Linked DNA regions of Homo sapiens: region 1 is linked to region 2. The links come from fine-mapping of genetic effects on plasma protein levels. A gene starts in region 2. The other region holds a variant in brackets. All regions are shown on one strand. Distances are between the middles of the regions.

Region 1 (5,518 bases), 30 kb before region 2:
TCCTGGGTTCATGCCATTCTCCTGCCTCAGCCTCCCGAGTAGCTGGGACTACAGGTGCCTGCCACCATGCCCGGCTGTTTTTTTTTTGTATTTTTAGTAGAGACAGGGTTTCACTGTGTTAGCCAGGATGGTGTTGATCTCCTGACCTTGTGATCCGCCCGTCTCGGTCTCCCAAAGTGCTGGGATTACAGGTGTGAGCCACCGCGCCCGGCCCCCAAACCGGTTTCTAACAAATAAGTGTTAAGTCAAGGGGTTCCTCTACAGAATCAGTCATCTTCACCATGACACCCACAACGCCCAAATTGCTGCTGGCATTCCTCCACTCTGAATGCACAATTAGAAGCTCAGCACTCTATTGGATAAGGCTGCTATTTCACCATTTGAAGAACCTTCAAAAAGGTCTTTAGAGACAGGGCATGGTGGCTCACACCTGTAATCCCAGCACTTTGGAAGGCCAAGGCAGGCATATCACTTGAGGCCAGGAGTATGAGACCAGCCTGGCCAACATGGTGAAACCCTGTCTGTACTAAAAATGCAAAAATTAGCCGGGTGTGGTGATGTACACCTGTAGTCCCAGCTACTCAGTGGCCGAGGCACAAGAATTGCTCGAACCTGAGAGGTGGAGGTTGCAGTAAGCTGAGATCGTGCCAGTGACACTACATTCCAACCTAGGTGACACAGCGAGACTCCCTCTAAAAAAAAAATTCCTTAGAAACTTCAGAAGGATCCTTCCACTAGGGCAGAAGGGATGAGAGAGTAAGAATCTTCACCCCTACCACTCATGCCTTTCTGAAGGCTCAGTCTGGCCACACTGCAAGGGCACAGTGAGCCAGTTTTGGCCTGGGGCTTCTTGCTGCTGCCAAATTAACAACTCCAGCCCTTGGGTTTAGCCACCTGCTGCTGCTAAAAATGTTGCTGAGAGTGATGGAGAGGTGTTTTAGTTCCCATTTTACAGATCAGAAAATCAAGGCCCAGAGAAACTAAGTAGTCTTGGAGATAGGAGCCATGGCCTCTCCACTTGAGTTATCATCTTGAAACATCAAGGACAAGCCAACTTTATCAACAGTTTTAGGCCTGTGAGAAATGGGCTTGGTTTATCTTGAAGATTGTAAACAAATAAAAAAATAGACTGCTCCATTACTGATGAGAAATATGAGTCATTCTGCCAGGAATTGAAAGTACAGCTGCCCATAAAAAAGCTATGCCGGGGTCCAGCCTCTCCAGGTCCTTGTGTGTGAAAAACCACTCAGTCAAAGTTCCCCTTTTATTTCTCTTTGTGCTCAGTAGGATGCTGAAATTTCTGGAAAAGACAATGGAAATCAGGGGCAGGAAGAGAACAGTGTGGGGTGCTAAACAGATCTCAGCAACCTCCCTGCCCACGGCCATCTCTGCGCAGACACCTCGACCCCCCATGCGCAGGTGGAGCAGCGTTTCCTAGTTCTTTCCAGAGGCTTCCTTCTGCCTGCCTTCCAGCCACATCGCCTGAGATTGACAACGCCCTACAGCAAGACGGAAACCTCCCTTTACAGCACCACCTTGCGATTCTGCAGCCACAAAGTTGAGACTTCTGAACGTGGCACTCTTCTGTTCCCTTACTGTTTCACGTGTACCTGTGTCATCTTTCTTGTTTCATCGTAAACATACTTCTAAAATTCCCATTTTCTTTATTTAGAAATAGAACTACAAGCGGATGGTTAAACAATTTAAACAAATGGTCCATGGGGAAAAGTGAATTTCACACTGTCCCCCAAACTTTCAGTGCCTTTTATGGAGATAATTATTGTTTCTAATGTTTTGAATATTCTTTCAGAGATATTTTATTCTTATATAAGCATATGTGTATTTGTGTCCTTCCCTCATTTTCCCCCCACAAACACTAGCAGACTGTTTTGCACCTTGGTTAGCTCATTTAACATATCTTGGAGCCAGGTGCGGTGGCTCATGCCTGTAATCCCAGCACTTTGGGAGGCCGAGGTGGGCGGATCACCTGAGGTCGGGAGTTCGAGACCAGCCTGACCAACGTGGAGAAACCCCGTCTCTACTAAAAATACAAAATTAGCCAGGCGTGGTGGCACATGCCTGTAATCTCAGCTACTAGGGAGGCTGAGGCAGGAGAATCGCTTGAACCTGGGAGGCGGAGGTTGCGGTGAGCCGAGATCGTGCCATTGCACTCCAGCCTGGGCAACAGAACATATAGATCTGCTTGATCCTTTTCATGACTGCTACAGCTCCATTGAATGTATGGATCATCAGTGCTCCAGCTAGCACCTTAGTGATGGGCATTTAGGGATCACAAACTTCATAAGGGCAGAAACAATATCTTACCCATCCTCTGTTTCTGATATGGTTTGGATGTGTGTCCCTGCCCAAATCACACGTCAAGGTAATCCCCCATGTCAGAGGTGGGGCCTGGTGGAGGTGATTGGATCATGGGGATGGATCCTTCATGAATGGGTTAGCACCATCCCTTTGGTGCTGTTCTTGTGATAGAGCTCTCATGAGATCTGGTTGTTTAAATGTGTGTGGCACCTCCCCACTCTCTTGGTCAAGTTCCTGCCATGTAAGATGCTTGCCCTTGCTTTGCCTTCTGCCATGAATAAAAGCTCTCTGAGGCTTCCCCAGAAGCAGATGCCACTATGCTTCCTGTACAGCCTGTGGAACTGTGAGCCAATTAAGCCTCTTTTCCTTATGAATTATCCAGTCTTAGGTATTTCTTTGTAACAGTGTGAGGATGAGCTAATACAGTTTCCTACACTGTAAC[C/T]TAAGGCAATGCTTTGCACAAAGGGATGAACCAGATTGCTTAGTAATTAAAACACAAATACAAACCACAAGCATATCCATTCATGAATTGGGGGACAGCTTTTATTTGATTCTGAGTTCTGATACCTGCTGCTTTGCTTTGTTAAAAATGTGCTAGTTCTCATTCAGCTTCCTATCAGTCATATCACCAACCAACATGTATAACATGTACAATCTGCCAGGTCAGGAGGAAACTTATGGATACAAGAAATGTCCCTCCCTTCTAGGAAATGATAATCTGCTTTGGGAGAGAAGGCAGGTACTTTTTGGCAAAAGTGACATAATAAAATAATCAAAAAAAGATGGATCTTTTTTTCTTTTTTGAGATGGAGTCACGCTCTGTCACCCAGGCTGGAGTGCAGTGGCGCGATCTCGGCTCACTGCAACATCCGCCTCCCAGGTTCAAGCGATTCTCCTGTCTCAGGCTCCCGAGTAGCTGGGACTACAGGCACCCACCACCACGCCCGGCTAATATTTTGTATTTTTAGTAGAGACGGGGTTTCACTGTGTTAGCCAGGATGGTCTCGATCTCCTGACCTTGTGATCCGCCTGCTTCGGCCTCCCAAAGTGCTGGGATTACAAACATGAGCCACTGCACCAGGCGAAAAGATGGATTTTTTAAAAAAGGTGTTAGGATAATCAGGTCCCCACCTGCAAGAAAGTAAAGTTAGAAGCCCACCTCAGACCATGCATACCAGCACAAAAATGTCAAATGGCTTAAAGATAAAATGTTAAAACAAGTCTAGAAAGGTATTAAAAGAAAATATAGAAAATACAGCACCAGCAAAAATTTCCCTACACAAGATGTAAAAGCCAGAAGTCATAAAGGAAAAGGTTGATAAATTAGAATAGATAAAAATGTAAAACTTTTGTATAATATAAGACACAAAGAATGAATTTAAAGACATACAATGAAGGTTAGGAAGATGAAGATGTTTTGGCGATGAGTGGTGGTTACACATCAGTATTAATGTACTTAATGTTACTGAACTGTACACTTAAAATGATGAAAATGGTAATTTTTATGTTATGTGTATTTCATCACATAAAAAAAGACATGAAATGAATCGGGGAAAATATTTGCTACATAACTAAGAATGAAGGCCCTTAATAAAATCTGTAAAACTATACACACTTTTAGGAATGAATCAACAAATAATTTCTATGAATTAGAAAAAAGTGACAATCCAACTAAAAAATGAATAAGGGATATAAGCAATGTGTTTCACAGAAAAAATAAAAATTGACAATGAAGTTATGAAAAAATGTTCAGTCTCCTTAGTAATTGCACAAAACAAACTAAAACAATGAGACATTACCCCTAAGATTAGTAAATGTTAAAGAAAAATAATAATTGGTGAGGGTGTGGGGAAGTGGGCACTTACACCTATGTTTGGAAATATAAATTGGTGCAACCTTATAGGGAGAGCAATCTCACAACATTTTCCAAAGACTTACATGCACAACCCTATGGCAGAGAAATTTATTCCTCTTCCAGGATTTTTTTTCCTTCAAAAACAGTGATGTGGATGAAAAACACATGTTCACTACTGCACAGGGTATAACAGCTGAAAACTGGAAACGATAATACTCACATTCCCTTCAGTAGGGGAATGGTTAAATAAATTTTACAAGCCATCTGGTAGATACCAGGCATGAGCTAAAAGTTAGGGTCCAGTTAGAGATGGAAAGCACACCAGTAATTTGAAAGGGAAAATGTAATATGAAGAATTATTAACTAGTAAAAGAAGGCTAACTGCTAAAGGTACAAGAGCACTCAAGCTGTCTGCAGTCAGCAGGCCCCGGCTGGTGAGCAGGAAGCTGCCCGCTGGGAGGCTGCCAAAGTTCCCTGAAGGTGAGCACCACTGGTTCTACAAGCTGCTGGCAGTCATGGCGTTAAGAGCAGGAAGAGAAGCACCAGAACCCGGAAGAGAAATCCAGTCCTCTGCTAGGCCTTGCACCGTCCCTCTGGCGCCCTCTACTGACAAAGCCAGTAAAATTGTGCCGCTAGCAAAGGAGATCTTTTTATGGGATGTAGCTTGGTGTCACCAAAGAGAACAGAGTGGACTTGGAGCTCAGATGCAACACAATGATTGATACTGGCACAGTATACTTACCCTGCTTTTGTAAACAAAATGGTATATGTGATGTCTCTCTTTGTCTCTCTGTATATAAAACAATATTTGTTTCTACTTATTATGTATTTATGTCTTTACTCTGCATGCCAGGAGCTAAGTATTTTGCATGTATTAACTCATTTTGTTCTCATAATAACCTTCACATGCAGGAATCATTATAGCTACTTTATGAATGAGCCGAGGAAGGCACTGAGACGTTAAGTAACTTGCCCAAGGTCACGCAGCTAGTAAGTGGCAGAGCAAGAATTACTATGGCTTTATAAGCCTAGGAAAAAGTCTGAAAGAATCAAAATGTTAACAGCGGGGACCTCAAGGAAGCATTGAAGAGGCCATGGGAGAAGTTTTCACTTTGTTAAAAAATCAGTCCTTCAAATAAATAAATACAGTGAGGCTTCCCCAGAAGCAGATGTCACTATGCTTCCTGTACAGCCTGTGGAACTGTGAGCCAGTTAAACCTCTTTTCTTTATAAATTATCCAGTCTTAGGTATTTCTTTATAACAGTGCTAGGATGAGCTGATACAGTTTCCTACACTGTAACCTAAGGCAATGCTTTGCACAAAGGGATGAGCCAGATTGCTTA
Region 2 (5,230 bases):
GCTGAATTTGCTAGTCAACTCAACAGGAAGTGAGGCCATGGAGGGAGGCAGAAGAGCCAGGGTGGTTATTGAAAGTAAAAGAAACTTCTTCCTGGGAGCCTTTCCCACCCCCTTCCCTGCTGAGCACGTGGAGTTAGGCAGGTTAGGGGACTCGGAGACTGCGATGGTGCCAGGAAAGGGTGGAGCGGGTGAGTGCCTGTTGCCAAGGTGGCCTCTTCAACAGGAAACCACAATATTTTTGTTTCTTGACTTGCTCTAGAAACAGGGCTGTGGGGGTGGGGAAGCAACTTGGATCTGCCCTTCTGAGGACACCTCTGGGTGCTGCCTGGCCCAGGTCTCCTGTGTGGTTTCTCTCTGAGCCGTTGCCTCTGACTTTGCTACTTTTTCACTCTGAGCAGTCTCCAGTTCCTCTGCTACCTTTTTGTCCTCCAAGCTTCCCTGCCGCCTCGAATGCAGATACACGGTCTCCCTCCTGTGGACCCGTTTGGAGAGTCCAGAAGACTTTATCAATCCACTTTTTTTTCTTTTTCATTTGGCCCTGGGGCCGACGGTTAAGTACTTTATTCTGTCATTCTGTCGAATCACGATGCCCTGAGGTGCACAGCCCCTTCCCCCTCTTCCGTGTCTGAAGGGTTTCCTTTTATCTCTCCACCCCCACCCTTGCCCTCCTGCCCTCTCTCTTGTTCCCCAAAGACAGTTCTCTAATGTTTTGATGTGGATTCGTGAATTTATCTGTATCTTTGCAAAATGTATTTTTCTTTTGTATGTGTACACTGTTTTTTAACTATGCGATCTCAGGCAAGTAATTCCTCTGTGCCTCTGTTATCTCATCATTAAATGATTAATAATGCCTCCAGAGGTGACTGTGAGGCTTGAAGGAGATAATACGCATACATCACTTACTACACGAGTTAGCAATTATTATTGCATATTAATACTATTGGTATTTTATTTTGCTCATTCTGTTTCTATTTCTTTTTTATTTATTTATTTTTTGAGACAAAGTCTTGCTCTGTCACCCAGGCTGCAGTGCAGTGGTGCAATCACGGCTCACTGCAGCCTCAACATCCTGGGATCAAGCAATTTTCCCATCTCAGCCTTCAGATTAGCTGGGACCACAGGCGCGTGCTACCACACCTGGCTAATTAAAAAATTTTTCTTCATAGAGATGGTGTCTCATTTTGTTGCCCAGGCTGGTCTCAAACTCCTATGCTCAAGGGATCCTCCCACCTTGGCCTCTCAAAGTGCTAGGATTACATGCATGAGCCACGGTGGCCATCCAGGCATTGATATTATGAGGCCATCTTGACCTAGCCCTCTCTGGTGAAGAGTCCTTTTCAGATACTTCGTTCAGTCTTCTCAGCTATGAGTCCCTACCCTCTGAAAGCTTATATTCTATTTGGGGAAAGACAAAAGGCAGTTTCAAAGAAGAGAGGTGTTTGATTTTCTTTTCCTACTTTTAATATCAGAAAACATTTCATCTAACTCTCAGTATGAAGGCAATATTTTGTTTACTGGTATATCCCTAGAGCCCAACATGGTGAGGGCCCCAGGATTTGCTTCTTTGATAAGATGGTAAACCCAGCTTTCAGCTAACTTCATGGTTTCCTCAGCTACACTCATATACAAGGATCACCTTTGGTAAGATGGACTTACCATCTTACCAAAGAGTTTTTGCATTTTAGAGTTTTTTCTTTTTAGATTTTTTTCATTTTAGAATTTTTTTATTTCAGAGTTTTTTCTTTTTAGAGGTTTTTCATTTTAGAGTTTTTTCTTTTTAGAGTTTTTTTTTTTTTTTAATTTTAGAGTATTTTAGGCTGCTGAGGGTGGAATCTGGTGACCTTGGGGCCACAGAGATGCTCCTTGGCTAAACCAGGGGCTTTAGCTCTGAAAGTTCACAGCCACCCTGAGAACCAAGATGAGAGGGCTCTGCAGTGTCCAATCTCAAGACCTCTCTGAGGTGCTCCATCAAGATTCATTGAATGAAAAAATTAAAGTCTTAATGATGAACCCAGAAAAATCTTTAAATCCTAAATATGAAATGAAAGTGTTCTTAGTTACAATCCAGTCCAACGTCCTTGTTTTGGAATGTGGAAATGAGGCCCCAAAGGTAAAATGGCCCATCCAAAGTCACAGCCAGGGGCCAGTGCTCAGGTGGCCAGGTGCCCTGCGTGCGGTCTCCTGGACCACCAGGCCTTTTTCCTGCAGCTTTAGAAGCTTTAGAAGGCACTCTGCTCACTCAGGGGCAAGTGGTAAGCGCTCTTTCCCCTCTAGTGTTTGTGACTCAGGAGTTTCGAAACAGGAAGTAGAGCTGGCTGGCTGTGCCCTTCCGTCCTTCATTAGACGTTTGCTCTTGTCTTAGATGCTCAGATGGTAGTGGATAGGCCTGTGACGAAGGTGCTACCATCGTGAGAGTAAGGTAAGGATTTGCCTCTTTGTTAAGGTCAGAGGGGCCTTTTGGGAGGAAGGCCTTTGATTCTGGAGTTTTCTAGGCTGCTGAGAGTGAGATCGGGTGGCCCTGGGGCCATGGAGGTGATCCTCGTATGTGAGTGTGGATGGGGAAACCATGAAGTTAGTGTAAGAGGTAGCAGTCCCTCTGAGAGCCTTGCCGAGGGCCGTGCAGTTTCCAGATCTGAAGGCCATTCTAGCTTAGACTGATGAAGTCCTAGGAGCTTCTGAAATGCTGCAAGTTTAACTACTTGTATAAAGGCCTCATCCTGATCCCAGTCAAACTTGTGAAATAATAGAAGCCAAAATTTAAATCTCTACTGACTTTGCTGCTACAGCTATCCTCCCACCAACACACATACCCACCAACATACACACTTGCCAACATAAACGCACACACACATACACACAAACACACCCATGTGGTCCTACTAATTCAATTATTTATTTTTTAAAGAAATTAAAAAAGACTGGGCGTGGTGGCTCTCGCCTGTCATCCCAGCACTTTGGGAGGTCGAGGCGGTGGTTCACCTGAGGTCGGGAGTTTGAGACCAGCTTGACCAACATGAAGAAACCCCGTCTCTACTAAAAATACAAAATTAGCCGGGCATGATGGCGCATGCCTGTAATCCCAGCTACTCGGGAGGCTGAGGCAGGAGAATCGCTTGAACCTGGGAGGTGGAAGTTGTGGTGAGCCGAGATCGTGCCACTGCACTCCAGCCTGGGCAACAAGAGCGAAACTCCGTCTCAAAAAAAAAAAAAAAAAAAAATTAAAAAGATACAGAACAGTTCAAAAAACAATATAATGGGAAGACTAGATAGACACAATCAGAGACCTGCACTTGTGGGGTTAAGAATTTACAGGTGAAGTTGCAAGTTTCATTCTGTTTGAAAATGATGGGATTATATGTTTTGCTGAGGTTTGGACACCTTTGCTGGGTTGTTTGAATGCCGTGGCTGCAGCGCCCTGTTATGGACATCATGTGCGTGCAGAATGGATGTCTGTCAGGTTCCGGGGCAGCCCGCAGTCTGAGGCAGCCAGCCTGGATTGGAGGGAGTGGCAATACTACCTGCCGGTTAGGGGTTTGGGCCTGAGAGCGAGTGGCTTTCAGGTTCTCTCAAGCTTCGGATGAGATGCAGGTTTCTGCTTCCGATGGCAAATGCATGTTTTGCTTTTTAGTTATCACTGCAAGAGCTAGGATGCTGCTAGAATATTACTGGAATGATTGTGATGAGATGGAATGTATTTACAGTTTAATTGTGACATGTAATACAGTGGTAGAATGGGACTCTGGAATGAGATGCTGGGGCCTAGATTCTAGCACTTCCTTTGTGAGGCTCTAACCCCCTCTCCTATAGTGGATTTGTTAAGAACTTCTGTTTTTGTGGCTTTGTTATTATAAAATTTTTTGAAATGTTGTTCTCTAAAAAAGTTATGATTTTATGTTTTTCTTCATGAGATTCTTTCACTGCCTTCCAGCTGCAAGTAGAATGACGTCTAAATCTTTGTGATCTGTCACTGAAGCCCTTGAGTGAGACACTTAAATCTGGCTGTGGCTCTCTCTCTTACTAGCTTATTTCCAAGCCGTGATTTTTCACAACAGAAAAATGGGGACAGTAATAGTAGTTTCTTCAGAGGCTTTTAGTGAAATGAGGTTAAAAAATATTTTTATGTTTATATGGATATATAGATTACAAACATTTATATATCATTTATTTATATGATTATTATAAACACATATTTATATTTAAATACTTTGGGGCATAAATATATAAAATAATAAATATACTTATGTAATACAAATAGACTTATATACATTTACTATTTAGCAGAGATTATATAAAATATATGTATTACATGGCAACATATTCAAATTTACATATGTTATATATACATGTGGAAAAAAAATTGGGAAAAGGCCACAAAATGTGACCAAAGAATTACTTCCAAATGGCAAGTTTTTAAGTAATTTTTATTTTCTTTTTATACTTCTCTGTACTTTCTCTATGAAACAAGTGTTACTTTTACTGTTTTTAGGAACCAAAAATACAAGTACATTGTTTAAAAAATACTAGCTTAACAAAGTTTCTAGCCCATAAGCTAGTGCAGAAAATCTAGGTCCCATAAAACAAGAACTGCCACACGATGTCTCTCCCCTTACAGTGCTGGATGGCCCGTTGTTAATGGTGTCATAAATCCTTTGCAAGTGACTGTTTTCTAGGTACTATGACTAGAGGGATGTGTAACTTAAGCAAAAAACAAAAAACAGAAAAGGCTGACTATCATCTGACAGTGTATCCTGGAACACCTAGGCCAGAGAAGAAGCCACGTTAGCATTTTCCCTTCTAAATGTCAGTTATGATTTGATGGGGAAACCACTTAAAAAGCATTGTCACGTTGTTGAAAAGGTAATGAAATGAGTGAGATGAGATGGCTATGGAGGACGGAGCTATGCGCCAATCTTATTATATCCAAATTCATGTCATCTCAGCCTTGGATTGTATTGATTTTTATTATATACTGTCAGAAAATGCTATTGAATGTGTAACAAGAGCCTCAAAAAGGTTTATTCATTTTGACACCATAATACTACTTTTAGGAAATTATTCTAAGAAAATAATTAGAGGTATTCTTAAAGATTTGCGTTTTAAAGTCATCCTAAATGTAATCAGGAACTGGCTATGTAAATTATAGCCCATCTCTAAGATTAAGTGCCTTACAGATATTAAAACCCATGCTGTAGAAGAAAAACTAAAGACAGGAAAGTACTTACAATACAAG

Direction of the effects. Alleles are on the strand shown, and positions count from the first base shown. The strength of an association depends on the size of the effect and on how common the allele is.
As copies of T replace C in region 1, the plasma level of the protein whose gene starts at base 2,342 in region 2 goes up (weak association).

Evidence for each region. A credible set is the group of variants that fine-mapping cannot tell apart. PIP is the chance, under the fine-mapping model, that this variant and not a neighbour inherited with it causes the effect. Protein levels are from antibody-based Olink assays in UK Biobank. Linkage for the fine-mapping came from a reference panel and not from the study's own genotypes, which makes the PIPs less certain.
Region 1: its variant is the best candidate, but not a certain one, in a credible set for the plasma level of the CASP8 protein (UK Biobank, PIP 0.81).

Annotation. Positions count from the first base shown.
Region 1 is chr2:201,227,646-201,233,163 of GRCh38, forward strand. It overlaps a transcript of CASP10 not described here. Among named protein-coding and RNA genes, the nearest start is that of CASP8, 30 kb to the right of the region's middle. RefSeq lists an enhancer at 4,540-4,789. The variant C/T (reference allele first, on the strand shown) is at 2,762.
Region 2 is chr2:201,258,195-201,263,424 of GRCh38, forward strand. It overlaps CASP8 (caspase 8), which reads left to right and starts at 2,342. Exons shown (of 9, transcript NM_001372051.1): 1 at 2,342-2,419. RefSeq lists enhancers at 1-46, 6-150, 147-206, 227-646 and a cis regulatory region at 78.